4 linked regions of the Homo sapiens genome follow. The protein of the gene in region 4 purifies or fractionates together with the protein of the main gene of each other region. This does not show direct contact. Each region holds a gene or a part of one and is shown on either strand. Other genes may lie near its edges.

The links.
Region 1: the proteins of TNIP2 (region 4) and AMOT purify together in Homo sapiens (affinity purification with mass spectrometry, with the first as the bait; 2 studies listed by BioGRID). This does not show direct contact.
Region 2: the proteins of TNIP2 (region 4) and TNRC6B purify together in Homo sapiens (affinity purification with mass spectrometry, with the first as the bait; 2 studies listed by BioGRID). This does not show direct contact.
Region 3: the proteins of TNIP2 (region 4) and ENTR1 purify together in Homo sapiens (affinity purification with mass spectrometry, with the first as the bait; 2 studies listed by BioGRID). This does not show direct contact.

The regions. Positions count from the first base shown.
Region 1 is NC_000023.11:112,816,809-112,823,832, forward strand, and holds part of AMOT (angiomotin), read right to left. Parts: intron 6,381-7,024; 5' UTR 6,319-6,380; coding exon 5,447-6,318; intron 2,631-5,446; exon of another isoform or gene 2,517-2,630; intron 1-2,516.
Region 2 is NC_000022.11:40,180,925-40,187,948, reverse strand, and holds part of TNRC6B (trinucleotide repeat-containing gene 6B protein), read right to left. Parts: intron 1-7,024.
Region 3 is NC_000009.12:136,407,615-136,414,872, forward strand, and holds the start of ENTR1 (endosome-associated-trafficking regulator 1), read right to left. Parts: upstream 3,001-7,258; 5' UTR 2,784-3,000; coding exon 2,714-2,783; intron 2,626-2,713; coding exon 2,476-2,625; coding exon of another isoform or gene 2,260-2,475; intron 1,454-2,259; coding exon 1,385-1,453; intron 325-1,384; coding exon 212-324; intron 1-211. Other genes in the region: PMPCA (mitochondrial-processing peptidase subunit alpha), read left to right, coding at 3,055-3,125, 4,383-4,585, 4,876-4,955, 5,196-5,278, 6,939-7,033. UniProt on the Homo sapiens protein: Endosome-associated protein that plays a role in membrane receptor sorting, cytokinesis and ciliogenesis. Involved in the endosome-to-plasma membrane trafficking and recycling of SNX27-retromer-dependent cargo proteins, such as GLUT1.
Region 4 is NC_000004.12:2,746,314-2,753,337, reverse strand, and holds part of TNIP2 (TNFAIP3-interacting protein 2), read left to right. Parts: intron 1-5,392; coding exon 5,393-5,683; intron 5,684-7,024. UniProt on the Homo sapiens protein: Inhibits NF-kappa-B activation by blocking the interaction of RIPK1 with its downstream effector NEMO/IKBKG.

The sequences.
Region 1 (7,024 bases), on a different chromosome or scaffold from region 4:
GAAAGTTCCAGAAAGAGACCTTTGGTACATTGTTTAATGTGGCTCTCCCATTTTTGTACCTAATTACCAGGTACAAAATGCTAACACCTAAGTATAAATAATTCATACCTAATGACTATTAGCCATTAAGGGAAACAATTAGTATGTGGATGGATCACTTCCACCATCACCACTACCAGGAATAGTATCTGTCAGTGTGCACTGAAGACAAAAAGCTTGTTCATGCCCTAGCTCATGCCCAATTAACCTCATATGCTCCCATGTCCTGTGGACACTTGTTCTACAGTTGATATTTCTCAATCCAGGGAAGACAGATGGCTAAGTGCATGGGATCTGGATCCCAACAGAGGGAGTCTGGAGACCTCTTCTACTGCTCACGAGCTGTGTAACTTGGTGCAAGTTACTTAATCTGCATGAGCCCATTTTATTCTTGAGGTCACAAATAAATTGCAAAAATACTGGGGTCTTCTCATTTTTGGCGGAATAGGAATTACAGTCACTTCTCTACCTCCCAGTGAGATAAGCTGACCTTGTTAGCTTGTTACTTAAAGGATATCCATTTAATCTTTGCAATAAATTGCATAAAATTCATGGTGGAACTGGGACAAATCACCAGGAGCAATTAACTTTTAACTGGCATTCCAGATGCTAAAGCACATTCCTCAGACACACACTCCAGTTACCATTACTGTTCATGTATCCATCTTTACAAGAGATCTTAACTATAAGGGCTTTTTACAGCTACAAAATCATTCCAAACACTTTCTCATGGATACCCAATAACCTACATCTTCCCCAAGAGTCCTCAAACCTGTACAAACCCTGGATTCTGTCGCTCAGGCCCATCTATGCCTCTGGTGTACCCACATTCTTCCAATCACATACATCTGTCATTATAAATAATTGCTGAATATTGAAGAGGGCATGCGAACTATTTGGGCAAAGAAGAATTGACATGGTACTCATAAGTACAACTGGAAAGTTGCTGCCATACATAATATTTTTCCCCAGAGCTCAAAGCACTCATTCAATCAAAAGCCTGGGAGTTATTTATACATTTATTTGGTGAAGAGCTCCTATTTTCCATTCTATGGATCTTCAGTTTCCTCACAGGTAAAAGACTAAGTGCTCTTTTTTCTCTTTGAATGAGAGCTATTACAATTTCTACATGCCTACAGAGTTAAAATATAATGTCCTGAGATTTGTTGGGGCTTGTGTGTCTCTTTTCTGCTTTGTGGGCAGAAAAGAGGGGCTTAAGTTTCATGTTCTCCAATGCAGCTCTCAAATTTTAAGGGAAAAAAATCACTATATTAACCTTCATTTTTGTTCCCAGGATTTGCAGTCCAAGGCCTGGGAGGTATTCTCTTTTAAAGACTGAACGCCCAGTTCTGAAATGGGCTTTCTCTCCACAGCTCCCCTGGGCCTCATCAAGCAACCCAGGCCTCTCTCTCAAACAAACTCAGCCACTGGCCTCCCTCCTGCCTGGAGACTGAAAGGCCCCTGCATTCCCTGGACAACAGCACATGGCCTTCCAGGGACCTTGGGAAGGAGGAGACCATGAGGTCTCCAGAAGGAGGTCTCTGGGGTCAGATAAGCTGAGGATGAAGATAAGCAGAGACAAGGCAGCTGCCCCTCAATTCCCCAGGCTGGAAAAGGAAGCAGATCTCAGTGCACCGTGATGTTGGGAAAACCAAGGCAGCCCGTCACTGGCTGGTTTGCAAACCAGCAATGGCTTGGGCAGTCACAAAGGGAGAGAAAGCCCTTCAGTGAAGAACTCAATCTGGGCTCCAGCATCCACCCACCAGGGGAAAGCAGGACGGAATGAACACTGGGGTGAAGCTCCCCGTGAGAAAAAGAGATTAAGGAATGACGGGGTAAGGGAGAGTTGGAGGGGGCGGATGTCAGAGGAAGCCAAAATACACCCCAAGTTAAATAATAACAGTAAAAGTAATGACAGTAATAATAAAGGTGGCAGCCATGTGAGCAGCACACTCTCCAGGTCCTTCCAGCACACAGCAGCCTGAATCGCTCCCCACTGACACGTTAACCAGGAACAACAAGCCGCCTGCAGACAACAGAATCACATGATTCCATGCAAGCCCTGACCTGCCTCCTGCCACTTCCGTCCCCTCATCCTGCTCCTTCCTAAGGCTACCTGGGCCACTGGGGCTCTGCAGAAAAGGGGACATAGCATACATGCAGGACAAAGGCCAGTGACTAAAATCAGGATCCTCCCCAAAGCTGGGAAGTGGGGTAGGGTGGGGGGTACACTCCTCCCAGAGACAGTAGTAAGGACTCAAAGGGAAAGTAAAAGCCACTCTACCCAGCTGACACAGCACCTTCCACCCTGCCACCTCGATGACTGGGAGCCCTCACCCTCCCCAGCCACACACACATGCACACATGTGCATGCACACACACACTCCACACTCCTGGCACACACATGTGCAATCCTGCACACACACTCTCACCAGAGCAGGTGCCACCCAATAGCCTGGAACTTGATTGATCCTCACCACAGAAACTGCCTTTCCCAGGCTCTGCAATGGTGAATCGGTGAATCTGTGAATCCTGGAGCAGGCTGCAAATTCCTGATGGTTTCTCTTGCACAACCAGCTCTGCTCTGAACTACAGAGTTAGGTCACCCTTAGATTCCACTAAACAAGGATTTCAAGAAACCTCAGATCTGGGCATGATTTCAACAATTGAAAGGAGGTGGCTGCTTTATAAACAGAAATGATTTAATTTTTAAAAGCAGTTGATAAATGTATAAACCCAGGATGCAGAAAAGGTTCAGCACTTAGAAAGACAAAGATTCTGAAATTTTAAAATTATTCAGATAGCCTTTGCCTTGTTTCTCATCTGGGGTTCTGGGCATTCAAGGTATTTATTTTTTAAGGGGAGGAGGGCATAAGAAAGATGAAGTAATAAAAGGATTGTTTATAATTTTGTTCATTTTAACAGCAAATCTCCAGCAGTTCACTGCACCTCGAAAAGCAAGCAAATGTTTTCTTAACAGCAATTTGTTCAAAGAGTTTGCTTTGCATCCTGACTTGTAATTTGTGGATTAAGGGCTCAGAATGTAGTCTTCTAATTGGTTGCTGCTAGCAGCAGTTACTTGGAAAGGTACTCACAAACTGTATAGCTAGTTGGTTAAAGGAAATAAAGGAGGGAAAATGTGTCACCACCTTAAAGCAGTACACTTCTGGAAAGCAGTTCAACTACCTCCTTTTGCCAGTAATTTGTCAATAGGTGCCACTCCCTCATGTAGGGCCCTGCAACAATTTTACGGCCAGTATTTGCCTGATGCAGACCCAAATTTCATATGGAGCATCCTCCCACTAGGGCCATTTTAGGTTTGCTTATTCATCAAGCATTATCAAGCACTCTGCTCCTTTCCCATAGAGAAAAACCTGTTACAGCAAAACTGTGTATTAAAATGCTGCTCAACAAGGGTAGATCATCATGGGCTCTGTTGCTTTTGAGGACAGAAAGAAAGAGAAATCCACAGATAACTTAGGTGGGAGGATAAAAAATATGTATCTTCCTGTAAAATACATGCAGCTAAATTTCTCCGGTGGTTTAATCAGGATGGGAAGAAAAGGAAAAAAAAAGAAAACCTCTTTGGGCTCCTCATTATTTATTTAGGCAGATCAAAGGGCAGATAATTTTCCATCTAGCTTCAAACACTGTGGGAGTCATTTCAGATCACAAACAATACTGGTGAATGAGTTCTGAAAATAGCTTTCCTGGGAAGGCGGGCTGTGTGCTGAGTGGGGCTGTGGCTTCTGCTCCACACCCCAGCCAACACACTCCCCTCCCACAAGGCAACAGACATCAGCCCATCAACAGACTCTTCCATACTGATGGGAAAAGCAAAATAAAAACCCCCAGCTTCATTGATATTTTGCTGGCTTGAATGGGTTTCCACTAAGTGAGGCAGTCTTGAACAGACCAACCCCTCCCTGGGTCTTCTGTTTCATTGGTCAGATGGGAATCTGGTTCTTGATCTCTTTTAAACCTGAGTAGCCTTGTTGGTTACCCCATTTCCTGTTCCAAGACACTGATCAGAACATAGGCTCCTGCCCTTTGAAAGCTGCACAGAGGAGGTTGAAAAGGGTTAGGAAATCAACCTGGGTTAAGAGGGAAAAAAAAAAAAAAATCCTAAACTGGCAAAGTTAGAGGTGGAGTCCAAAGTGAATTGCCTCTGGCTACAAAAACAGGACCTGCAGGGGAAAAAAAAGAAATACCAGGAAATGCTAGGTGCCTTCTCTCACTTTCACCCTACTCCACCCCATGACTGCCTTCTCTCCTGAGTCACTCAATGAACTTCAAGCCAGAAGGTTTTTTCCAAAATGAGCAAGTAGGGTACAGGAGACAAAGAGGTAGACATCAAAGGACATCACAGACCTAGTCTGTGAGCCGCATATAAATGAAGGCCAGCCTAGGACCAAGCACTTCAAACCTGATGGTCACCCATCATTACTCATGGCCATGAGGCAGGATACCACACTTAAATGCCACCATCGGTCCCCATGGTTTAAACCTTTTCTCCTGCCCTATATGTGGAAATACTACTGATCAGAGACATGGCCCAAATACTAACAACAGGAACAATGAACAGAATCATAGAATCATAAGGTCTAGTGAATATAGCAGTGGGACAATGGACCTCTGAATAATTAAGAAGTATATATAGGAACAACTAAATATATAAGACAGAAATGGTAATATTTTTCCTTCTGTATTTTAGCATCTGACCAAAATTTCTATATGATGTGATGGGAATTTAACTCAGAGGTTTAAAAATGTGACAGGCAACTAATAAATTCTCTACAAAAAAAAGATACAACAGTCCAGATTTCATAAACTGCAAGCATAAGGCAAGTAACATTCTGAACCTACATACATACATAGCTCCCCCACCATAACATCTGGGTGTTTGTTTAGTCCAAAAGAATAATGGTAATTCTATGGAAAAATGGTAACTGACAAGAAATACACAGATTTGTTTGCAAAAATAAATGATGAAAGCTTCATGGAGGGGAATATGTGCAAGTGATAGGATGTTCCAGACTAATTAAAGTGCAAGGTAATTTGCTTCTACCTCTCAAGGAGGGCTTATGAGAAACACAGACCCCTTCAACATCCTAGGAGAGAGGACAGCAAATAGCTGCTGAAAACAAGACTTTTGCTCCTGTTCGTCCACTAGGCAGTTGAGGCCATGCTCAACCTACAAAGCTAAGGGATTGTTAATACAGTGCTAATTATGGCTAAAGAGGATACAAATTCGGGTTGGCAGGCAATTCACGAAGCCAGAGGCCTGTCATGCATTGCAGAGTTTGTTATATCAAACACCTGCCCGTTCCTTCCCTAAGATTCCCAACACACAGCAGAAGCTGGTTGGGGATGAGGTCAGGAAATGACAGAAACAGAACTCTCTTACCTGGCTGCTCCATACTCAGGGGGATGCTGATACCTCATCAGTTGCCCCTCTGTTCTCCCTGGCTGGTTCAGGCGATGCTCACTATAGAAGTGCCCTGGCTCTTGGGGCTTGCACACTACAGATTGGGGTGGCATGCCCTTGAAGGGATATTCTGGTGGGGGGCCTCGGTGTTCCATGCCCTTCAGGCTATGCTGGTTAGGAAGTGGCCCTTGGGCCTTGTAGAATTCACTGGAACTTGTGGGATTCTTGTAGAGGTCATTGGGTTGTGGTGGGGAGAGGGGAGCACTGGTAACAGGTGGATGGGCCTTAACTCCACTGGTGGCCAGTGACATCTGCATTAGTCGTTCACTCAAGGAACGGACATGCCCTTGCTTAAGGTCTCTGAGTCCCTCATCTTGGTGCATCTTTCCAGGATTGAGCCGCTGAACTGATGGGCGTCCCTCAGTCCTCATCTTCTGGTTGGTGACTCCAGTGACATAGAAGGCAGCTCCAACACTGGCATGCTGTTGGCCCCGAAAGTACTGGGACTGGACCTTGGCTTCTTCATAGGTCGGGAGTTCTTCATTATTTTGCATTCGAGGAGACAGCTGCTTCTCCATGATGAGGTTTTCTGACTGGATTTCCTGCCCCTGGGGTTCTTGTCGAGCAGCATGAGCCACAAGCTGTTGGTGGTGGTCTTGGGGACTCAACACATCACTCTGAGGGCCCGGGTTCCCACTGCCACTGGGGAAAGGAGGGCCATTCCCTGTGGCTTGCTGGTGTATGGCAAGCAGGCTGCGATTCTCACTAGGATTGCCATAGCGAAGCTGCTCTTGTAGCAAACGCTGCAATACCGTGGTCCCTCCACTTGGCTGTTCTTCAGAATTTCTCATCTCTATTGCTGGTGGTGCCTTGTGAAGAGAGAGAGAAATTGGGCACCTGGGCTGCCCTTGACCTGGGAAGGGGAAACAGGAAGCTTAACACCCAGTTGATGGATAAATCAGTCCTCTAAAGGGAAAGAAAATGGATATTGGAGGGTGAGGATTCGATTGCAGAAACAAAGTAGAGAATTGACTCTAAAATTAATAGATTGTTGGGGATTCCAGGCCCTAGCACTGATATGATGAAGAACATGGAGGCATAAGAGCTCTAGGTTTTCTCTTTCACTTTTAGCATGAGTTAAATATTCAATCTGGACTTAACTCCTAAGAATGCTTGAGAAACCTGGAACAGTCAACTAGGGTAATCAAAGGGGGTAACTTTTCAAGGTCCATATTCACAGGCTTCATCTCTCTGTATTCTATTTAAAGCAAAAACCCAAATCTTATGGCTGTGGAGGTGGGGGCAGGACAGTGGGGAAAGTTACCCCATAACAGGATTTGTAAAGCAGCTCAGCATATGAAGGCAGCTACAAAATGCAAAATAAAGACTCAAATAAATAAAAGGTGAAGAGAGCTTGGCTTGCACCAGACAGTAATGATCCCTGCCTCGATGCAAATCTTTTTCTCTGATCTCATAAGGCTCTGAAACATCTTTTTAAAAAATCATTTTCATAGTCTCCATTTTGGATGCTCCTTGGCTTAATAAGAGAAGGACTTG
Region 2 (7,024 bases), on a different chromosome or scaffold from region 4:
CGTACCCGGCCAGATTCAAGATCCTTTCTATCTTTACTGGTTATCACTTAGATGGTCTAGTTAACAGCTGCAAAGCAGTCTCAATCAATGAGATAATTAAATGAAAATCTTTGAACCTGCTTTTTATAAACTGAAAAAACCCACCCATATTTAGTAAATATGCGTTCAATTGGCCCAGGTCGGCAAAAAGTACACAATGACTAAACGGGGCTAAACGGAGAAAAGTGAGATAAGAAAAGTGAGAGACAAGCACAACATAATTAGCCTGGTGGCACCCTCTCCCACCTCACACCTCCACCACACAGGGACGCTGGGACACTGACTTAAAGCAATCCTAACTTCATCCCCCCACCTGAAGCCACCACCTCACTGACTCCAGGGAGTGCAAAAGAAACTCACAAACAGTAACAGGAACGCTCCCACCCCTCCTGCTGGATCTGTTTTTAAGTGTAAGCCTCTGCACCAAGCATTTCAGAAACATGGCACAAACCGGTATGTTTAGGAACTTCTACCAATGTACCATTCTGCTGACTGTAGCCCAAACACTATTTCAAATTTTGGAATCTGTGTATTTTCATAAAAAGTTTGTCTCCTCACATTCAAAATTAGAGATTTGACCCTTCTAAATTCTAAAAATTCCACTAGGATAAGCCAACATGTATTCTAAGAAACACTAATCCTGTGAAATGCTTTGCGATGGTGCTAAACCATTTTGGGTATTTTCAGAGTGCACATCCGCTGTACAGTAGCCTATTTTACTTCGCATAACCCTCCCTGTGCTGTCCAACAGAGTAGCCGCACGTGGCTACTGTGCACTTGCAATGAGACTAGTGCCACTCAAACTGAATTTTTAACTGTATTTTAATTAATTTAAATTTAAAAACTGACATTTCCATTGCTGGAAAACTTTTTTATGTTTGGAAAAACGTGGGTATGTGAACCTACTTTTCCATGAAAAAGTAGTAAGTTTTATGAAATCTAAAAGCAAATCAAGTATTTCCAATGAAAATTTTATGTTTGAACTGAAATGTGTTGTAAGCCTAAGATACACACCAGGTTTCAAAGTCTTGGTACAAAAAAAACGTAAAATGTTGCGTTAACATTTTAAAATCAATAATATGTTGAATTAACAATATTTTACATAAATAAAGTCGATATTACTGAAATTAATTTCACTTATTTCTTTTTATTTTTAACTTTTTTTTTTTTTTGAGATGGAGTCTTGTTCTGTCACCCAGGCTGGAGTTCAGTGGCGTGATCTCGGCTCACTGCAACCTCAGCCTCCCAGGTTCAAGCAATTCTCCTGCATCAGCCTCCCAAGTAGTTGGGATTACAGGCATCCGCCACCACGCCCGGCTAATTTTTGTATTTTTAGTAGAGACGGGGTTTCACCATGTTGGCCAGGATGGTCTCGATCTCCTGACCTTGTGATCCGCTCACCTCGGCCTCCCAAAGTGCTGGGATTACAGGTGTGAGCCACCGTGCCTGGACTGTTTACTTTTTTAATGTGACTCCTGGAAAATTTAAAATAACACACGTGGCTTGCATTCTGTTCCTACTGGGCGGTGCTGGCGCCATCGAATGATTCCCATACCAACACTGGAACACCTCCCAACACCAGGTTCGGGAATGTTGCCATAACCAAATACTTTTCTTCCTGTGCAGCATTTGAACTGCTGCCCACACCTGTGATCGAACAGTTCTTCCCTCATCTTCTGTGATGAGGAATGACTGTCCTTCAGAGCCACCGTTCTTTTTATCCTTTCCCAGGTCCTCTTTCTCTTCCCGTCCCCAAGGTCTCATTCTCAGTTCTTTTTTCTATTCTTTACAGTCCCATGGTGACCTCATCCTCTCCCTTACCTTCGACTATCACTTCCACGTGGAAGCCTTCCAAGTCTTTATCTCCACTTCTGACCTCTTTCTCAAGCTGCAGATCCACACTGCCAGCTGCCTGCTAACCAGTTCCATTGCCAAGTCCCACCAAATTCTCCAATTCAGTAAGTCTGACCTGGAATGCGTCATCTTCCTTTTGGTTGAAGATTCCCATCATTCACCTTAAAAACCTGGTCCCTAGTTGCATGGCCATAGCCTTATAGCAGGACCTTTCATAACAGTCCTTTTATCCCCTAATTGGCCTGCCTGTCTCTCAATTCTTCCTTTAATCAGTGCCCCCCCACCAAGTCCTCCTCTGCACCACTGCCATATCAAAATTCTCACTGCACTGCCATCAAATTTTCAACAGGTCCCCACCGTCTACCATAGCAATACAAACTACTCAGCAGGCACTCAGCTCCTGTACACGTGTGCAACCTCCCCTCAATCCTCCCTGGACACACCTAGTCCTCCTCCACCTTACTCTAGCTAATACAGCCTGCCATGAGTCTACTCACCACCATTCTGCCCAATCTGTAGGGTTCCACTCAAATACAAAGTCCTCAACAAAGCTTTCTCTGATCAACACAGTTAAAATCAGTGTCTCTCCTCCCTCAAACTCCTTTGGTACTTCTAATAATCATTATGGTAATGAGAGTATATGGCCTTATCTTTATAAAATAGTACAGTATTCCCTTAATAGCACTGAACAGCACCTTGCACTGCATAGTACAGGTATGCCATCTTTGGACACCTTACCAAAGAAATCAACTTAAAAAGGAAAATCTTGCCAGGTGTGGTGGCTCACACCTGTAATCCCAGCACTTTGGGAGGCCGAGGTGGGTGGATCACAAGGTAAAGAGAACAAGACCATTTTGGCCAACATGGTGAAACCTCGTCTCTACTAAAAATACAAAAATTAGCTGGCCGTGGTGGCACATGCCTGTAATCCCAGCTACTCGGGAGGCTGAGACAGGAGAATCGCTTGAACCCGGGAGGCAGAGGTTTCAGTGAGCCAAGATTGTGCCACTGCACTCCAGCCTGGCGAGCAAGACTCCGTCTCAAAAAGAACAAAAAAAAATTTGGTAAATTTGGAACTACTGGTAACTCTTAAGTCTTTATCTCCAGACCGGACCTGTAATTACTCCAGCCTTTCACCTGGATATCTCAGGATTCAATGATTCCAAAACTGAACTCATAATCTCAACCCCACACCTGTGCCTCATCTAAATGCACCCTAACTCAACGAATGGTGGCACCATTCCCACAAGAAGCCAGGCAGAGACACAGGTGTTATTTTACATTTCTCCAACCCCATCTTCTCATACCCAATGACCAACTCCTCCAAAATCTTCCTAAATGCCTCTGGAACTCATTCATTTGTCCCCAACTCTGTTGTCAGTTCAGGCCACTATGACCTGAGATTACTACAGTATCATCTGGTCTGACGTGCAATGTCCCAGCCAGTTTCCACAACACACCAGAATCGTCTTTCAAAAATCCAATCTGAACAAGTGACTTTCCCACTTAAAACCCTTCAACTGTTCTCAGGAAAAAGACTTTCAAACGTGGCTTATACACTCTTCTGCATCTGGTCAAGGCTTAGTTTTTCAGCTTACCTCTCATTTCTCAGATTATTTCTTCCCTTAAGCACACGACACTCCAACCATGTCAAAGTACTCTCTATGCTGTTCCCCAAATATGCCAATGTCCACTAGTGCCCCGTGGTCTTTGCAGAAGCTGTTATCTCTCTAGGTGTCCACCCTTTTTAACCCCCCAACACCCTGAGCACCAGCCAGCCCCTTGCATCTATTCTCTAACTTCAGCAGTCGTGTCTGGAGAAAATCTTCACACTACTGCTAGGCTTGTACTTGTACTTATCAACACCTGGCATGTGAAAAGCACTCAGTAATTATTTGCAGAATGAATGAGTAAACAGATCATTTTCTAAGTTTTTTAAAAAACAAATTCCAACGTCAATGAATGAAAGCCATTTTTCTGTCACCCATATTAATTCAACAGCATTGTATAAAGTGGGCAATGGACCTAAATTTTCATTTTGCCCATTGAGTCAAAACTGGCTGTTGTGCACGGTGGCTCATGCCTGTAATCCCAGAACTTTGGGAGGCCGAGGCAGGTGAATCACAAGGTCAGGAGTTCGAGATCAGCCTGGCCAACATGCCGAAACACTGTATCTACTAAAATATACAAAAAATTAGCTGGGTGTAGTGGCAGGCGCCTGTAATCCCAGCTACTCGGGAGGCTGACGCAAAAGCATCGCTTGAACCCAGGAGGCGGAGGTTGCAGTGAGCAAAGATCACGCCACTGCACTCCAGCCCGGGCGACAGAGTGACTCCATCTCATATTAAAAAAAAAAAAACAACCTAGTAATAATTTAGTCAAATAAACAGAATTTACATGTGTGGGCCCAGAATAATCACAATGAGGGAGAAAACGCTGTATTCAATGTTCTCCTTTGCCTTGTAAACTCTAAGACCAATTCATTTGAAATTGCTGAGAACCTTCTGATGCAAAGCACAGAATGTATGAAAAACAGCCAAGTAAACGTGGATACAACACAGAGGCACAGCCTGAAGGAAACTGGAGAGTTATGAAGAGACGACATCAGACCACAGGAATGTAGGGACTTGAATAAAGAGAAAAGGCTCCGTGCTGCTCCTGTCCTTGTGCAGGCTAAAGCTCTGTGCAATCACTGTACAGGCTTCATGATCCTGGTAGCCATGAGAAAGAACAGAGCCATTCTGCGGGGCCATAAAAGCCTTTCTGGTTCATTCAACAAAGGGAGATACAGCAAAGGGGAAGGAAACACTTACTAAGCAACAAGACTAGGTGCCCAGCCCTCACATATAGCATTTCCTTTATGCGTCGCAACAATATATTATCCCCATTTTGCTGGTGAGGAAACGAGCCTACCATCGTCACACAGTGAGTCCTGGTGACCTTATACTCACACATTTTCACTCAACATCCACTCCTGCCAAGCCGTTCTAGATGTTGGGGATACAACAGTGAGGAAAACAGATAAGGTCTCTGCTTTCAGGAAACCGGATAGTATTGTGGAGACGTACCATACACAAATAATTTCAGATGGTGATACAATTTAGGAGTGTTAAAAAAGTAAAATTGAAGGATGTGATAAAATAACTAGGAAGGCAATTCCAGGTTGCAAAGTTCTCAGAGGTAATGCAAAAGATAATTTTGAAGAGATAGTGCACAGAGCTAAAGACAATGTTTAATAAAGTGACTATCAAGTCAAACCTTCAATGAAGTCTCCAAAACTACCAGAAGCAAAAAATTACCACTCATTCCCTGATTATCAGAAAAGATAACTAAGGAGTTATCTCAGTCATAACCTAAAGCAGTAAGTTATATAGTTAGTCACCAGATGGCAAGTATTTCCACATGAACCAAACTATTGAAGGCAATGGGCCAACCAAATTAATTCTTAGATGCCCCAGCACCTACATCAGTGCTTAATAAATTACTGCTGAACAAATATATGACGGAAAGAAGAAAACAATGTTAAGATGTCACTGCCATGAGTTAAATAAATCCCTTTTCTGGCCAAGTGGCTTCAATTCACTCCACCCTACCCCTGACACCCGTCTTAATCACAAGCAGGTGAGGAAAGTGGGATTAGAGTAAATCCACGAACAATACTGTACAGAGAAACAATTAGCATATGCTGTCCCTCTCCCCAGCCACCAGACAGAAACAAGTTCCACTTAAAGAAGTCTAATATCTAAATAACTAAAAATTATTAAATGGGGTAATTATTTGGCTTTTTTTTCTTTTCTTTTCTTTTTTTTTTGAGACGGAGTCTCCCTGTACTGCCCAGGATGGAGTGCAGTGGCACAATCTCGGCTCACTGCAACCTCCGACTCCTGGGTTCAAACGATTCTCCTGCCTCAGCCTCCCGAGTAGCTGGGATTACAGGCAGGCGCCACCACCCTTGGCTAGTTTTTTTGTATTTTTAGTAGAGACAAGGGTTCACCATATTGTCCAGGCTGGTCTCGAACTCCTGACCTCGTATCCACTCACCTCGACCTCCCAAAGTGCTGGGATTACAGGCGTGAGCCACCACGCCCGGCTGGCTTTTTTTTTTTTCTCTCGAGACAGGGTCTAGCTGTTTCCTAGGCTGGAATGCAGTGGCACGATCTTGGCTAACTGCAGTGTCAACATCACTGGCTCAAACTATCCTTTCACCTCTCAGCCTCCTGAGTAGTTGAGATGACAGGCGTGAGCCACCATGCCCAGCTAATTTTGTTTAAAATTTCTTGTAGGGACAGGGTTTTGCCATGTTGCCCAGGCTGGTCTCAAACTCCTGAGCTCAAGCAATCAGCCTGCCTGGGACTCCCAAAGTGATCACAGGCGTGAGCCACCACGACTGGCCTATTTGGCTTCTTTAAGAAATTTTAAAACAAGGACCCTCCTAATGCAGATACTCAGATACTTCTGTAACCAGGAACTTGCTCTGAATATTGCACATAAACTGCCAAGTTGTGACGATCTGTTTACCAATAATGCTGACCTGGTACTCCTTGAGGAAAGGGACAAAGTACATTCATCTATCTGCATTGCCTCAGGGCTGTGTCCAGCTTAAACTGCAGATGATCAATGATTATATGATCTGAGTTATAAAAATTAAAATCTTTCCAAACTTTTCAGTCATGGAGCAGCTGGGTAGGGTGAGGAGCAGCTGGGTAGGGTGAGGACCACCCTTATTCCTCAGGGTGGTCCTCAATAGCCAGAGCTGCTCAGCCTGCTCTGCAGAACCTGAAGGTCTCATCATCGCATAACACTCTTCTAGTGTCTCTTGTAGAGCTGAAGAGCTGGAGAAGCCTTAGAAGTCTCTGCTTCAATGTTCGGAAGTTTATTTTTAAAGGACCATCCGAGTGGCCACACAGAATAACAAATGGCCATTCACAGCTGAAGAACAGAGCTGAGTTTGCACCATATATCAAAGATGCCAAAGCTTCCTTTCTGGGAACCAGATGGAATGACTGAAAAGCACTTTAAAATTGAGATACCACTTCTGATGAACGCTACCAATTTTTGTGATCTTTCAGTCATGAACCTGTGACATTTTTTTCTGAGACAGAGTAATGTTGTGATATTATCACTAGTTGAT
Region 3 (7,258 bases), on a different chromosome or scaffold from region 4:
GCATCTTCCTTTCTGTGTTCTGCCTCGCAACAAGAAGAAAGGCCCAATCTCTCTACCGGAAGGAGCCCAGCAGCTTCTGAGCCCAGAGCTGCTCCCCAGCACTGACGCCTGCCTGCTCTGCCACACTCATGCACGATTCCTCCAAAGGAGGCTGCAGAGGCCGGAACAGAAACGTCCCACAGAGCCATCGCCCACAGTGCCGTGGATTTACCTTTGCATAAATTCTGCTGGCCGGATCCTCTTTCGAGAGGCCGAGGTTCTTGGTCTTCAGAAACTCTCTAAAAGAGAATGGATTTGCCTCTTCCAGATCTTCAAATCTGTCATCTGAAATAACAGACATCACAAATGCATAAAGTCTACTGAAGAGCGTTGAAAGGGAACCTTCCTGTTCACCTGTCTTTCCAGAGCATGGCCACATGTGAGATCGGGCAGCCACGCTTGTCATTCTACCATGACTCAGGCAGCACTAGGAAGTGTGAAGGTGGCTGAAGGTGGGCAGTGACACAGACGTGCGTCTGCATTTGCAATCTTCTCCTTCCACCCCTCGGCCCCTGCTCCCACACTGTGCTGCTCACTAAAGCTCCCCTGGGGAGCTTTAAAACGACCCAAGCCACTCCACTGCACACACCCAGCTCCCTGGTGTGAGGTCAACCTGTGCTAGGAGCTCTCAAAGCTCCTCAGGTGGCCAGGTGTGGTGGCTCACGCCTGTACCCCAGCACTGTGGGAGGTCAAGGCGGGCGGATCACGAGGTCAGGAGACTGAGACCATCCTGGCTAACACGGTGAAACCTCATCTCTACTAAAAATACAAAAAATTAGCCAGGCGTGGTGGTGAGCGCCTGTAGTCCCAGCTACTCGGGAGGCTGAGGCAGGAGAATGGCGTGAACCTGGGAGGTGGAGCTTGCAGTGAGCCGAGATCGTGCCACTGTACTCCAGCCTGGGCGACAGAGCGAGACTCTGTCTCAAAAAACAACAACAACAACCAGCTCCTCAGGTGCTGCAACGCTGGGGACCCAGTGCCCCCTGACCCTCTTCCCGACTTTCCTACCTAGGTAGCCTAAATAACGCCCACTTTTCCCTTCTCCCTCTTGCCACCGCCTTCCCACCCTCCGGGGACTTAAGCAGCCACACTCGACCCTCCCAGCTGTGAGCCCCATGTAAAGCTGGCTCCTGTGGCCCCAGCCCCCCAGGTGGGGCTTCCCCGCTCCCTGATGTCACCTCGCTGCTACTCTAGGATCAAGACTGAACCCTTGAAATCCCACCCCCACCTGCTCTTTTGGGCTCCAGCTACACCACATAGCCAGTCACATTGACAGTCCCACCAGACACGTGCCTGGCACTGTGTTGGATGGAGACAAGAAGAAAAGGTTGCTGAACTACTCTACCTCCAAAATGTGTCCCGTGGGCTCCTGACGGGCTCTGCTTAGAACATTTCCCCTTTCCATAGCCAAAATCTGCAAAGAAACAATGTCACCCACCATGCTGGCAGGAAGTCTTTATGACCTCACATTTGGTTTTTTTCTTTTGCACATGGAGTCTCCACTGCAGTGGTTCTCACAGTCTAGAGAACTTTTTTTTTTTTTTTGAGACGGAGTCTTGCTCTGTCGCCCAAGCTGGAGTGCAGTGGTGCGATCTCGGCTCCCTGCAAGCTCCGCCTCCTGGGTTCACGCCATTCTCCTGCCTCATCCTCCCGAGTAGCTGGGACTACAGGCACCTGCCACCACGCCCGGCTAATTTTTTTGTATTTTTTGTAGAGACGGGTTTTCACCCTGTTAGCCAGGATGGTCTCAATCTCCTGACCTCATGATCCGCCTGCCTCGGCCTCCCAAAGTGCTGGGATTACAGGCGTAAGCCACTGCGCCCGGTCAGCCGAGAAAACTTTAAAAAAAACACAAGCTCCCAGACTTGTGACCCTGGAGATGGCCTGACTTGCAGACTGGCCCTGGTGTCCGTGGTCTGAAAGCGGCTCCTCAGCAGATTTTGAAGCCCAGCCGGGGCAAGCGCGTCCTCTTGTCTTGTGACAACCCCCGAATGTCCTCAGATCCTGGCATAACCACACAAACACTCCTGCACACCCCGGGCACCCAGCAGCACTTCTGCTTGGGTAGAACGAGGACGAACCAGATCTGGCCACTGCCCGGCTGTGGAGGCAGATGGAATGCTCCAGCTCGGTTTCCAATCACTGCCCACTAGGTGAAGGCACCCCGACTCCAGCCCCACGAGGAAAGCGGGCGGGCTCCTGTGCTCCCCGGGCACTAACCATCCTGTACTGGAACTGTCTGTCTTGGGGGAGGTCTCCCCGCAACCAGACTGTGAGCTCCTAGCAGGGGACTCCGCCTTTGAATTCCGAGTGCCTGGCACGCAGTGAGCGCTCTGCACATTGATGGGTCAATGGACGAGCTCGTGCTGCAGCGGAGGTGCCACACGTGGCGCGGGAACTGGAAGCGTCCCCGGGGCCGGCGCCCTCGTCTCTCACCTGTGTCTCCCACGGAAGCCAGCACCGGGCTGGGCACATAGCACATAAAGGCCGGCCGAATGCCGAAGAAGGGGGAGTCCAGGTCCCTGCCATGGGGGCGCTCACAATTTAGCTGGGGGAGACAAGACCGGCGCTCATAGAACGCTGGAGCTGGAAGCAACGACAACAGCGACTTTACTGCGTGCCGGGGCGGCCGCCGCCCACCTGGACCGCTGGACTCGGCCCCTGCCCCGCTCACCGTCGGGAATGGCGAGGCTCCGGGCTCGGGACAGCGGGGTGGCGCCCGGGCGGCGCTGGTAGCCCGACATCGCCGCCGGCCCGGCGGGGCACGACCTGCCTAGCCCGGCAGCGGCGGCTCCATGGCCCCGGCTCCGCCCGTGCCGCGGCCCGCGTCGCCCGCCCCCGTCGCCCGCCCCCGTCGCCCGCCGCTCGGCCGCCCCCGCGCCTCCGAGCCTCTCGCCGCTGCTTCCGCTCCGAGCACCGAAAGCGCGTGCCTGAACGCCTTGGGCCGTCGGCGAGGGGGAGGGGAAGCCGTGGGCGGAAGCGGAAGTGACGACTGAAGCGGGGCGGAGACGCAAGATGGCGGCTGTGGTGCTGGCGGCGACGCGGTTGCTGCGGGGCTCGGGTTCTTGGGGCTGTTCGCGGCTGAGGTGAGCCAAAGGCGAACCAGGCTTCGGCCTGGGGCGGGGGCGGCTCGAGTCTTTCTGGACGCTCCGTCTTCGGTTTCTACAGGTGACATGGCGCCCGTGGGACGGGCTCGCACTTCGGGACACTGGTGTCCCCGAGGCGACGGGGGCCCTGCCTTGCTTTGCGCCTCGAGCCCGGGGACGCAGTCCCATCTGTCTCTCCTCTCCCCGGCTGCTGGGTCCTCTCCCCCCCTCACTTCCCGGGTCGACGGGCCTTCTCCGAGGCCATGCCTCATATTTGCCCCCGCGCTTCACCTACCGCGTGCTCCTTCAGGAGGCTGAGCCGGTGGGGGCCCAGCTCTGTTAGACCCGCAGGGTTCTGACACCAGGGTCCAGGCTCTCGGTTGCTGCGGTCTGTCCGTTGATCTCTGACGTTTAAGAACCCTTTCCGTACCCACCGCTCCTCCCACCCAAGTGACCGGGCCTGCCTTTCCCCACGCTGGAACTTTGTTCCGACAGCACAGGCGTCGCCCCTCCCCACACAACGAGCGCCGTTTCAGGGGTGCGGAGGTGCTGCCTCCAGGAGATGGATACAGGCTGGAGCGTAAACAAAATATCGGCAGTCGCGTAAATGCTTTGGAGTAAACAAGCAGCCTTTCATGATAGAAAATAGCAGGAAAGACTAGACTGGTGAGGGATAGTCCTCCATCAGGGTGACATTTAAGGGAAGAGCTGAAGAATGAAAGAAGGGGTAGGCATGGGCAAAGGGCAAGCCCTGGAACGGTGAAGAAGCTTTGGGGTTGATGAGTCAAATGTGTTCCAGGAATTGACAAGAATCAGTGTGACCAGGACCTATGGGAGTGTGGGGGTTCAAGAGATGAGTTTGGAGAGGGAGACAGAGGCCAAGTCACACCCCGCCTTCGGACCAGGTTAATAAGGGATATGGCTTTTATCCAAGACTTCGGTGGTGCTGTTGGAGGGCAGAGCTGTTAAGTGCTTTATGTGTACAAACTGCACTTAGAGTGAGTTACTGTTAATAAGCCCTGTTTTTACAGAGATAGCAACTAAGACCCAAAGGACGGAACCAGCTTGCTCCAGGTCCCGTGGCTGAGCCTTTGTTGTCAGCCTCTGCTTTGTCTTCCAAAGTCTGTAGAAATAAGTCCTGTAGAAAGGCAGATGCTCACTTTTAACCCAGACAAAACATAACTAACCGCACCTAACAGGTCATCACAGGTTTGTTGTCTCAAGCCTGTTGTAACTGGGCCGCTTTCTCTGTTTTAGGTTTGGACCTCCTGCGTACAGACGGTTTAGTAGTGGTGGTGCCTATCCCAACATCCCCCTCTCTTCTCCCTTACCTGGAGTACCCAAGCCTGTTTTTGCTACAGTTGATGGACAGGAAAAGTTTGAAACCAAAGTAACCACATTGGATAATGGGCTTCGCGTGGCATCTCAGAATAAGTTTGGACAGTTTTGTACAGTAGGAAGTAAGTACTGTTGTGTTGTCGTGGGTGGTCCCGCAGTTTTAACATGCACATGCTTTAGTTGACTGTTAGTTGTAATTAGCATGCCAATTATGAATTGTACCCTGAGTGGAAACAAAGTGTACGATTTCATAAATGTTGAGCTACACATATACCTGTGAAACCATCAGCACAATCACCCTCATGTAATTAAATCTGATTATCATGTCATATTGACATCTTAAAATGTTTCTCTTGATTAAATCTTATTTTGAATATCTGATGTAACCTGTCAATTTTCTTTTTACTACTAGTTCTTATCAATTCAGGATCGAGATATGAAGCGAAATACCTTAGTGGAATTGCTCACTTTTTGGAAAAATTGGCATTTTCGGTCAGTACCCAGTTTTGTAATTTTTTAGACTATACTTTTGAAGGATGTTTGAGATTTTTCTTGTCTATAATGGTTATTTTAATAAATTATCAAGTTGCTAAGTTAATGTTAATAAAAGACTTTTAAGTTAAAAGATAATTTTTGTATGTGTGTTAAAAGCAAAAGTAGATTTTAAAAAAAAATTGTGTTTCAGGGATAGCCTGGATTGCTTATTTAGGTTTCCTTATTTATTTTTACTAGTCTACTGCTCGATTTGACAGCAAAGATGAAATTCTGCTTACGTTGGAAAAGCATGGGGGTATCTGTGACTGCCAGACATCAAGGTACACCAGCTTTTGTGTACAAACTGACTTTGGGTCCTTGGGAACTGACGTTCTTGTCGTTGCTCAGATTCCCTCTGAGCCCCTCCCAGCGGGAGGTGTGGAGATTCACGGGGAGAAGGAGCCCTGTCCTGGATGGAGACTTGGGTGGATGGCGCTTACACAGAGAAGCACAGCCCCCAGGAGCTCAGTTGACCCCCGTCAGTTCCTCCAGGCTGTTGGCTGCATGCCAGGGATGTAGAGCAGGCCCTGTTCCCAGATAGAGCAGAGGGCCTTGCATACGTAATGGACCCCGTAGCCAAAGGCGGTAGGAGCCAGGAGGATGAGTGGCTGACTTGGTCTGGAGTTGGGAAAGGAATCATAGGAAATGCAGGGTTGGGCTGGTTCCAGAAGGAGTTTGCTAGACACACGGGGCACAAGGCATTCCAGACCAGGAGACAGCAGGGGCAAAAGGCACCGAGCCAGGGAGGTGCCGGCTGCTTGGTGGAGGGAGGGGGCAGTGTTGCCTCGAGCACAGTGCAGTGGTCTTTGCATGCCAGGTGTGGAGCTTGTTCAGAAAGCACTGGGCAATGTGAGATGGGTGAATATAGATCACAGATTTTTAAAATTGTTGATTTAAGTTTGAATGCTAAAAAAATTACACATAAAAGACACATTAAATGCTAAGAATTAAAGTTAGCTTGGAGGTAACATATTCATGTTCTAAAACAAGGCCTCTTAATACCCCCTGACTCCCAGCTGCCCCTGCCAGGTTCCTGCCTGGTGTGTTTGATTCTCCGACTCTTGCCTCGAATCTCACTCATCCCAGATGAACTCCTTTCTCTGGCCAGGTGGCTGGTGTCCTGACTCAGACCCAGCCCCCCTCGCCCTCAGCTCAGGCTTTTGTTCTTGCCATTCTCCCCATGTGGAGAGCCAAAGTCACTGAGAATGGCTCCTCTTCAGGGTGAAGGTCCAGCCAAGTCCCCTCTTCAGAGGCACTGGTGACTGCGTCCTGCCTCCCAAGCTCCCTCTTCTTCGTGGCTGTTGCGTCTGCTCTGCATGGTCTCCCTTGATCACACTTGATCTCAGAGCACCCCATGATTTCGTGCCTGTCCCATGGGCCAGCTCTGTGCACTTCTGACTGTGCAGTGCCTCATGCCGGGAACAGATGTTACAGTGAGACAAGCTCCATACGAGCCAGCCATTGCTGTCCCCCAAGCCAGCCAAGGCCGGGCATGTTTCCACACTCACCAGTGGGTTCGTTCAGTCAACAGGAGGCTGGGATGAAACACTTCACCTTTTGAGAGAGAGTATAGTTACAAAAATCTGTATCAGAAGTGGCTCCATTTTGACTCAAGCTGTGTGTAGCTGTGAGTCCTGCCTACCAAGCATTCACACTGTAAGACAGGAAAAGAGAAAGGGGAAAAGTGTCTGCTGTTCCCCGATGAAGGGTAGGAGGTGTCCCCTGGCACGCAAAGCCCAAGCGTCCCTGAAATGTCTGCTGGGCCCCAACAAAAGGTAGGTGCCCCTGGCATGCAAAGCCCAAGTGTCCCCTGGCTGTTGAGCAGAGTGTGAGCTCAGGGCCTGGCATTGTCCACCTGGCACGCAAAGCCCGAGCGTCCCCTGGCTGTTAAGCAGAGTGTGAGTTCAGGGCCTGGCATTATGGGCTTGTGTTTTCTTCCAGAGACACCACCATGTATGCTGTGTCTGCTGATAGCAAAGGCTTGGACACGGTGGTTGCCTTACTGGCTGATGTGGTTCTGCAGCCCCGGCTAACAGGTGTGGATCCCAGCCGCTGGCGTTTGAGGTGGGCTTGGACATAGGGAAGACCGGAAAGGTTTGCAGAAGCCCTGTAGCCATGAGGGAGAGCACCATGTAATTGGAGCTTTAGGCCAACACAAAGTGACAGCGAGATCTCATAAGAAATAGCGCTGGGGCTGGGCATGGTGGCTCACACCTGGAATCCCAGGACTTTGGGAGGCTCAGGCAGGCAAATCGCTTGAG
Region 4 (7,024 bases):
CTCCCATATAGCTGGGACCACAGGAGTGTGCCATCACACCTGGCTAATTTTATTTTTTTTTTGTAGAGACGGGATCTTGCTGTGTCGCCCAGGCTGGTCTAGAACTCCTTTCTTCAAGTGATCCTCCTGCCTTGGCCTCCCAAAGTGCTAGGATTACAGGCATGAGCCACCACGCCCAGCATGGGGGGATTTTTAATTATTTAAGGAACATTTTAATGATTTAGTTTTGTTTGTTTGTTTTTTTATTTTTATTTTTATTTTTTTAGAGACAGGGTCTTGGTCTGTGACACTGCCACCTAGGCTGGAATGCCTTGGGGCCATCATAGCTCACTGTAACCTTGAACTCCTGGGCTCAACCAGCCCTCCCATCACAGCCTCCCGAGTGTCTAGGACTATAGGCGAAGAGCCTACCACAAGGACTATGAGCCACCACACCTGGCTAACTTCTTAAGTTTTTGTAGAGAAGGGGTCGCATGATGTTGCCCAAGCTGGTCTCAAACTCCTGGCCTCCAGGGATCCTCCTGTCTCGGCCTCTCAAAGTGCTGGTATTACAGGCGTGAGCCACTGTGCTGGCCTTATCTGGTATTTTATGCAATTACATATTTATTGCTCATCCCAACGTTCAATCTGAGGTCGGTCATGGAACCTGTGGAAGAATGGAGAGGTTTGTCACCTCCTGCAGGCCCTGGGTTCACTGAGGTGGCAGTGCAGAGTTAAAGACACAGCAGGAAGCAAGCCGTTGCTAGGTTGCTCTCATCTATGAGAGCCCGTTAGGAGCAGGAACCCTGGACCAGTAGGGACTGAGGGCTCCCAGAGAGAGTGCTGAGGCTCAGAATGTGGAGGAGCTGACCAGTGCGTCTGTGATCAAGCTGCGGTCAGTGTGTGATGGGGCAAGATCAGGCCAGAGAATTGTGGTCCTCAGTGCAGCCACAGCTGGACTTGAGACCTTACCTCATCTGTAACACAAGGCCTGAGTGGATAACTTTACAAAGCCCCTCCAGTTAATACTTTCTGGAATAATGGCACCAATTCATTGTGCAACCTGGTCCTGCCCAACCCCATCCTGTCACCATTCTCGGGACCAGCTTCATAGGCTTTGCCTGGTCCTGGCGTATCAGCCCCCTTTCCCTTCCGGCTTAGCTTAGCTTTGCTTTGCTTGTTTTCTTGGCTCTTTCTTTTCTTTTCTCTTCTCTTCTTTTCTTTCTTTCCTTCCTTGTTCCTTTTTTTTTTTTTTTAAACTGAGTCTTGCTCTGTCGCCAGGCTGGAGTGCAGTGGCGGGATCTTGGCTCAGTGCAACCTCCACCTCCCGGGTTCAAGCGATTCTCCTGCCTCAGCCTCCTGGGTAGCTGGGACTACAGGCGCCCACCAGCACGCCTGGCTAATTTTTTGTATCTTTAGTAGAGGCGGGGTTTCACCATGTTGGCCAGGCTGGTCTTGAACTCCTGACCTCGTGATCCACCCACCTCAGCCTCCCAAAGTGCTGGGATTGCAGGCATGAGCCACCGCCCCGGGCCACCTTCCTTGTTCCTTTCTTTCTTCCTTTCTCCTCCCCTCCCCTCCCCTCTTTTTGACAGGGTCACTCTGTTGCCCAGGCTGGAGTGCAGTAGCATGATCATAGCTCACTGCAGCCTTGACCTCCTGGGCTTAAGTGATCCTCCTGTCTCAGCCTCCCGAGTAGCTGGGACTACAAACGCCCACCACCATGCCTGGCTAATGTTTTTTGTATTTTTTGTAGAGACAAGGTCTCGCCATGTTGCCCAGGCTAGTCCCAACCCTTGGGCTCAAGTGATCCTCCCACCTCGGCCTCCCAAAGTGCTGGGATTACAGGCTTTGGGAGAATACACTTCTGTTGTTTAAGACACCAAGTTTGTGATACTTTGTTGCCGCAGCGCTAAAAGCCAAGAGGCCACTGTGCCTCTTAAGGCCAATCCACAAGACTATTAATAGAGCTGTTTACACTTTTGTGTTCTGAGCGTGGAGCTATGGAGTTGTGGGTCCCGGCGACAGGCTTTCCTGAGAGATGTCAGCCCAGTTGCTGACTAGTCTGTGTGTTGTGCCTGTGTGTGTAGACCCACAACTCCAGCTCGTACCTTGTTTTCTGACCACAGTGGTCGAGGTGCTGTTGTGTCCTAAGAACTGTTACTAACTGGACAAGGCACTCAGACAGATAAACCAGCACAAAGCTCTGCAACTTCAGAGCCAGTGACAAATGCCAGAAGCCCGGGGGCTGGAGGGGTCCTGGGGCCCTCATGCTGCCGAGGGGAGGATGAGTGGGGCAGCCCTTTGCAGGGCTGGCCTGCCCCCACGGGTTGAGCGTAGAGCCTGCGTCCTGATCTGTCTCTGTATGGCCCAGTCTTATTCCCATTTACTGGGCATCTGTGTGGGGCTGGGCTCAGTGTTGAGTACTAGGGTGTGGAGGCAAGAGAGAGCCACGCCCTCAGGATCTACGAGCTGTGGACATGCTGCCCTCCTGTTTGTGGAGCTGTTTGTTTCTCCTACTGTCAGCATTTGACCAACGCAGGAAGGAGGCTCCGAAATCAGATTTTACCTGGGCACGGTGACCCCTGCTGAGGCAGGAGGAGGATTGCTTGAGGCCAGGAGTTCAAGACCAGCCTAGGCAACATAGCCACACCCTGTCTTTATCAAAAAAAAAAAAAACCAGAAGTCAGGTTTTGCTCAAAGTCCTTTATCCCTGAAGAGGGTCTCACTGTCACCCAGGCTAGAGTGCAGTGGCACCGTCACAGCACACTGCAGCCTTGACCTCGAGCCCATGGTCCCAGCTATTTGGGAGGTTGAGACGGGAGGAACACTTGGACCCAGGAGTTCAAGGCTTCGGTGAGCTGTGATTATACCACTGTATTGCAGCCTCGGTGTCAGGGCGAGACCCTGTCTCTAAAATAATAAAATAATAATAATAATAATAATAATAATAATAATAATCAGGGTTCTCGCAGTAATAGGGCTTAGTATTTTGTTCCATTGTGATGAGAACATTCTAGGTTCCCGGTCTCTGTCCCTTCTTACCTCAAGTACTAGACACAGAGGCTGGACCCTTCTCCCGCCACTTCTGGGGGAAGCTTGGGCTCCTCCGTGACTTTTCTGAAACTGTTTCTTCACTTGTGGGATGGACTAGTTGAGCCTGCTTCACCTCCTTCATGTAATGTACTGTTTATTTTGGAGGATTCTTTGAAAACGGAAAAGTACAAATTTAAGGCCAGATATTAAAAAATTGTCAGGTCAGATGTGGTGGCTCGTGCCTATAATCCCAGCACTTTGGGAGGCTGAGGCAGGCGGATCACTCAAGTCCAGGACCAGACTGGGCAAAGTGGTGAAACCTTGTCTCTGCAAAAAATACAGAAATTAGCCAGGTACGGTGGCATGCACTTGTAATCCAACTACTTAGGGTGCTGAGGCAAGAGGATCACTTGAGTCTGGGAGGTGGAGGCTACAGTGAACCATGGTGGCACCACTGTACTCCAGCCTGGGTGACAGGGCGAGACCCTATCTCAAAATAAAATTGTCATTTTAAGAACCTTTTTAAATTCTTTAAGAAGTAATTGGGGTTGGGTGTGTTAATTTCCTAGAGCTGCTGTAACAAAGTAACACAAACTGGGGGGCTTCAAGCAACAGAAATTTAATCTTTCACAGTTCTAGAGGCCAGAAGCCAGAAACCAAGGCATCGGCTCTCTCTCAAGGTTCTAGGGAAGGACCCTTCCTCGCCTCTTCAGCTTCCTGTGGGGGCCACCAATCCTTGGTGTTCCTTGGCCTTTATCCACAAGACAAGACGTCACTCCTATCTTTGTTGTCACGTGGTCGTCTTCTCTCTGTGTGTCTGTCCAGACTTCTGTCTGCTTACAAGGACACCAGTCCCGTCCTAATCCATTTTGTCCCCACCTTAACTAATTACATCTGCAAAGACCCTATCTCTAAGTAAGGTTTCATTCCCAGATACCGGGGAATGGGAGGTTTGGTTGTGGACATCTTTTTGGGGTTACCCACCACAGTGGAGTTTCTACCTATCCCATCAAAAAAGTGCTTGGAATTGCCACTTTGATAATTTGATGATAACTGGGTGTGGTGGCTTGAGCCTGTAGTCCCAGCTATTCAGGAGGCTGAGGTGGGAGGATTTGCTTGAGCCTAGGAGTTTAAGACCAGCTTGGGCTATATATAGCGAAACCCTCATCTCAAAAAAACATTTTGATGATATGAAATCTAAAATTATGAACTTGCTTGTGAAAATAGAATTTGGCAGGGCGTGGTGGCTCACACCTGTCATCCCAGCACTTTGGGAAGCCAAGGCGGGTGGATCTCTTGAGCCCAGGAGTTCAAGACCAGCCTGAGCATCACAGCAAAACCCTGTCTCTACAAAATACAAAAAAGTTAACCAGGCACGGTGGCACGTGCCTGTAGTCCCAGCTACTCAGGTTAGGATGGAGAATCGCTTGGGCCTGGGGAGGTCGAGGCTGCAGTGAGCCATGATTGTGCCACTGCACTCTAGCCTGGGTGACAGTGAGACCCTGCCTCAAAAAAAAAAAAAAAAAAATTGCTGGGCGCAGTGGCTCACGCCTATAATCCCAGTACTTTGGGAGGCCAAGGCTGGCGGATCATCTAAGGTCAGGAATTCGAGATTAGCCTGGCCAACATGGTGAAACCCCGTCTCTACTAAAAATATAAAAATTGGGCCAGGCGTGGTGGCTCACGCCTGTAATCCCAGCACTTTGGGAGGCTGAGGTGGGCGGATGCCGAGGTAGGCGGATCATGAGGTCAGGAGATCGAGACCATCCTGGCTAACATGGTGAAACCCCATCTCTACTAAAAATACAAAAAATTAGCTGGGCGTGGTGGCGTGTGCCTGTAGTCCCAGCTACTCGGAAGGCTGAGGCAGGAGAATGGTGTGAACCTCTGAGGCGGAGCTTGCAGTGAGCTGAGATCGCTCCACTGCACTCGAGCCTGAGCGACAGAGCGAGACTCCGTCTCAAAAAAAAAAAAAATTCTTTTAGCTGGGCTTGGTGGTGGGCTCTATAATCCCAGCTACTGAGGAGGCTGAGGTGGGAGAATCGCTTGAACCTGGGAGGTGGAGGTTGCAGCGAGCCAAGATTGTGCCATTGCACTCCAGCCTGGGCAACAGAGTGAAACTCTGTCTCAAAAAAAAAAAAAATTTGAGATGAAGTTTCAGAACAGAACATTGTAGGCTGAAAAACTCCAGAGTTAATAGTTCAAATGCCCAACTTCTGAGTGAGTAATTGTTAGTTCAAACGCCCAACTTCTGAGTGAGTATGTTTGTGTCTGGTGATGGGGCATCCACGCCAGGTCTTCTTTTGCTTTCTGAACATTTGCTCTTGACACTGCTTCTTTTAATTCAGTAAACTGTGCTTTTAAATCTTCCACTTAGGAAATTGAGAGGCTGACTGAGCGACTAGAAGAAAAAGAGAGGGAGATGCAGCAGCTGCTGAGCCAGCCCCAACACGAGCGAGAGAAGGAAGTCGTCCTGCTACGGAGGAGCATGGCAGAAGGGGAGCGCGCCCGGGCCGCCAGTGACGTCCTGTGCCGCTCCTTGGCCAACGAGACCCATCAGCTGCGGAGGACGCTGACCGCCACCGCCCACATGTGTCAGCATCTGGCCAAGTGTCTGGATGAACGACAGCATGCACAAAGGAATGTGGGGGAGAGAAGTCCTGACCAGGTAGGCCACAGTGTAAGCAGAGTGTGGGGAAGACCTCTGTGTGCTGGGAGCATCGCCTACAGGCCCCTGATCACAGAGGTGGGGGGGCGCCCCAGAACCCACTTCTGTTCTCAGTAACGAGAGTCAGCTGACGGGGCAAAGCTCACTCATCCAAGGGTTTCTTTTAAAATGATGGAACATGCAAAATGTAATAGGAAAGCAGGCAGCCACCTCACTGCCCAGCACCAGGCCTGTGGCCGACCCCGCTCCCAGGTGGGAGATGGCACTTGGCTTTCATCTGCCTCAGCTGAGGATGAGGAGGAGGAGCTGAGCCTGGCAGAGCTGCCTGGAGGAAGTGTAGTCACATCCTCCATCCGAGGAAACTGAAGCAGAGCCAGGTGGTACTGCTGGGGATGGGGAGTGCCTCCAGTTCCACACCCCAAACTCCTGGAAGGACCGTGAGTGCCCGCCTTCTTCAGGCTCAGTGTGTCTGAGTGCATGCAGGCACAGCTGGAACCGCCATCTCCAAAGCTGGCTTTAGGCATGTCCTTGCCAGCAGCACGGCCTCCCGCAAGCTTGGAGACCTGGCTCAGGGCCACAGCCTCCTCATCATCAAAGCAAGGGCCGGGGGCAGCGGCACCAAGTGACAGTGAGGGCCAAAGAAGGGTTCGCTGGACCTCCAGGATAGGCTGGATCTGGGCTGTAGCTCTCTGTGGGGTCTAGTGGGAGAGAGAAGGACCGTGGGAGTTTCAGCATCAGGAGAAACCAGGGGGCTCCTAGGCAGAAAAGTAGGGGAGCAGTGGCCCAAGGCATCTGTGTGCCAGGCACCTTCCATCTTGCTGGTGCTTGTGGTGGTCTGTGTGTGGCAGGCAGGGGAATGGAGGCACTCCGTGCACATCTCACCTAGGCTGAGACCCCATCTCACTCGCACTGCCGGGCACAGGGCCTCTCGCTCGGGTCCTTTCTAGGCAGTTCTCTGAGGCAGCACCAAGGTTCATGCAGAAACACACGCGCTGGGATGTTCTGTGGCAGACAGTACATCCCGCACCCATCAGCAGCTTCACCGAGGCGCCCACTGGGGAGAAGGTTGGTCTGAGAACTGCCCACCTCAGCTGGGTGGATTCCAGGCGGGGAACCTCAGAGAGGACACAGCTGCATTCAGAAACCAGAGGAAAAGTGCCGTCTGGGCGGAGGCAGGGTGTTCTGGTCTGATTTTGAGTCACTGTGTCATTTCCCTCTGGGGATTTGAAAGGAGCCACACACAGTGTTGAGCCTGAGGCGGGGGTGGGGCCAGTGGCAGGGTAGGCCCTCATCACAGTCTCTAAATAAGTGTCACTTCTCAGCCCTGAACTCAGCTGAGTC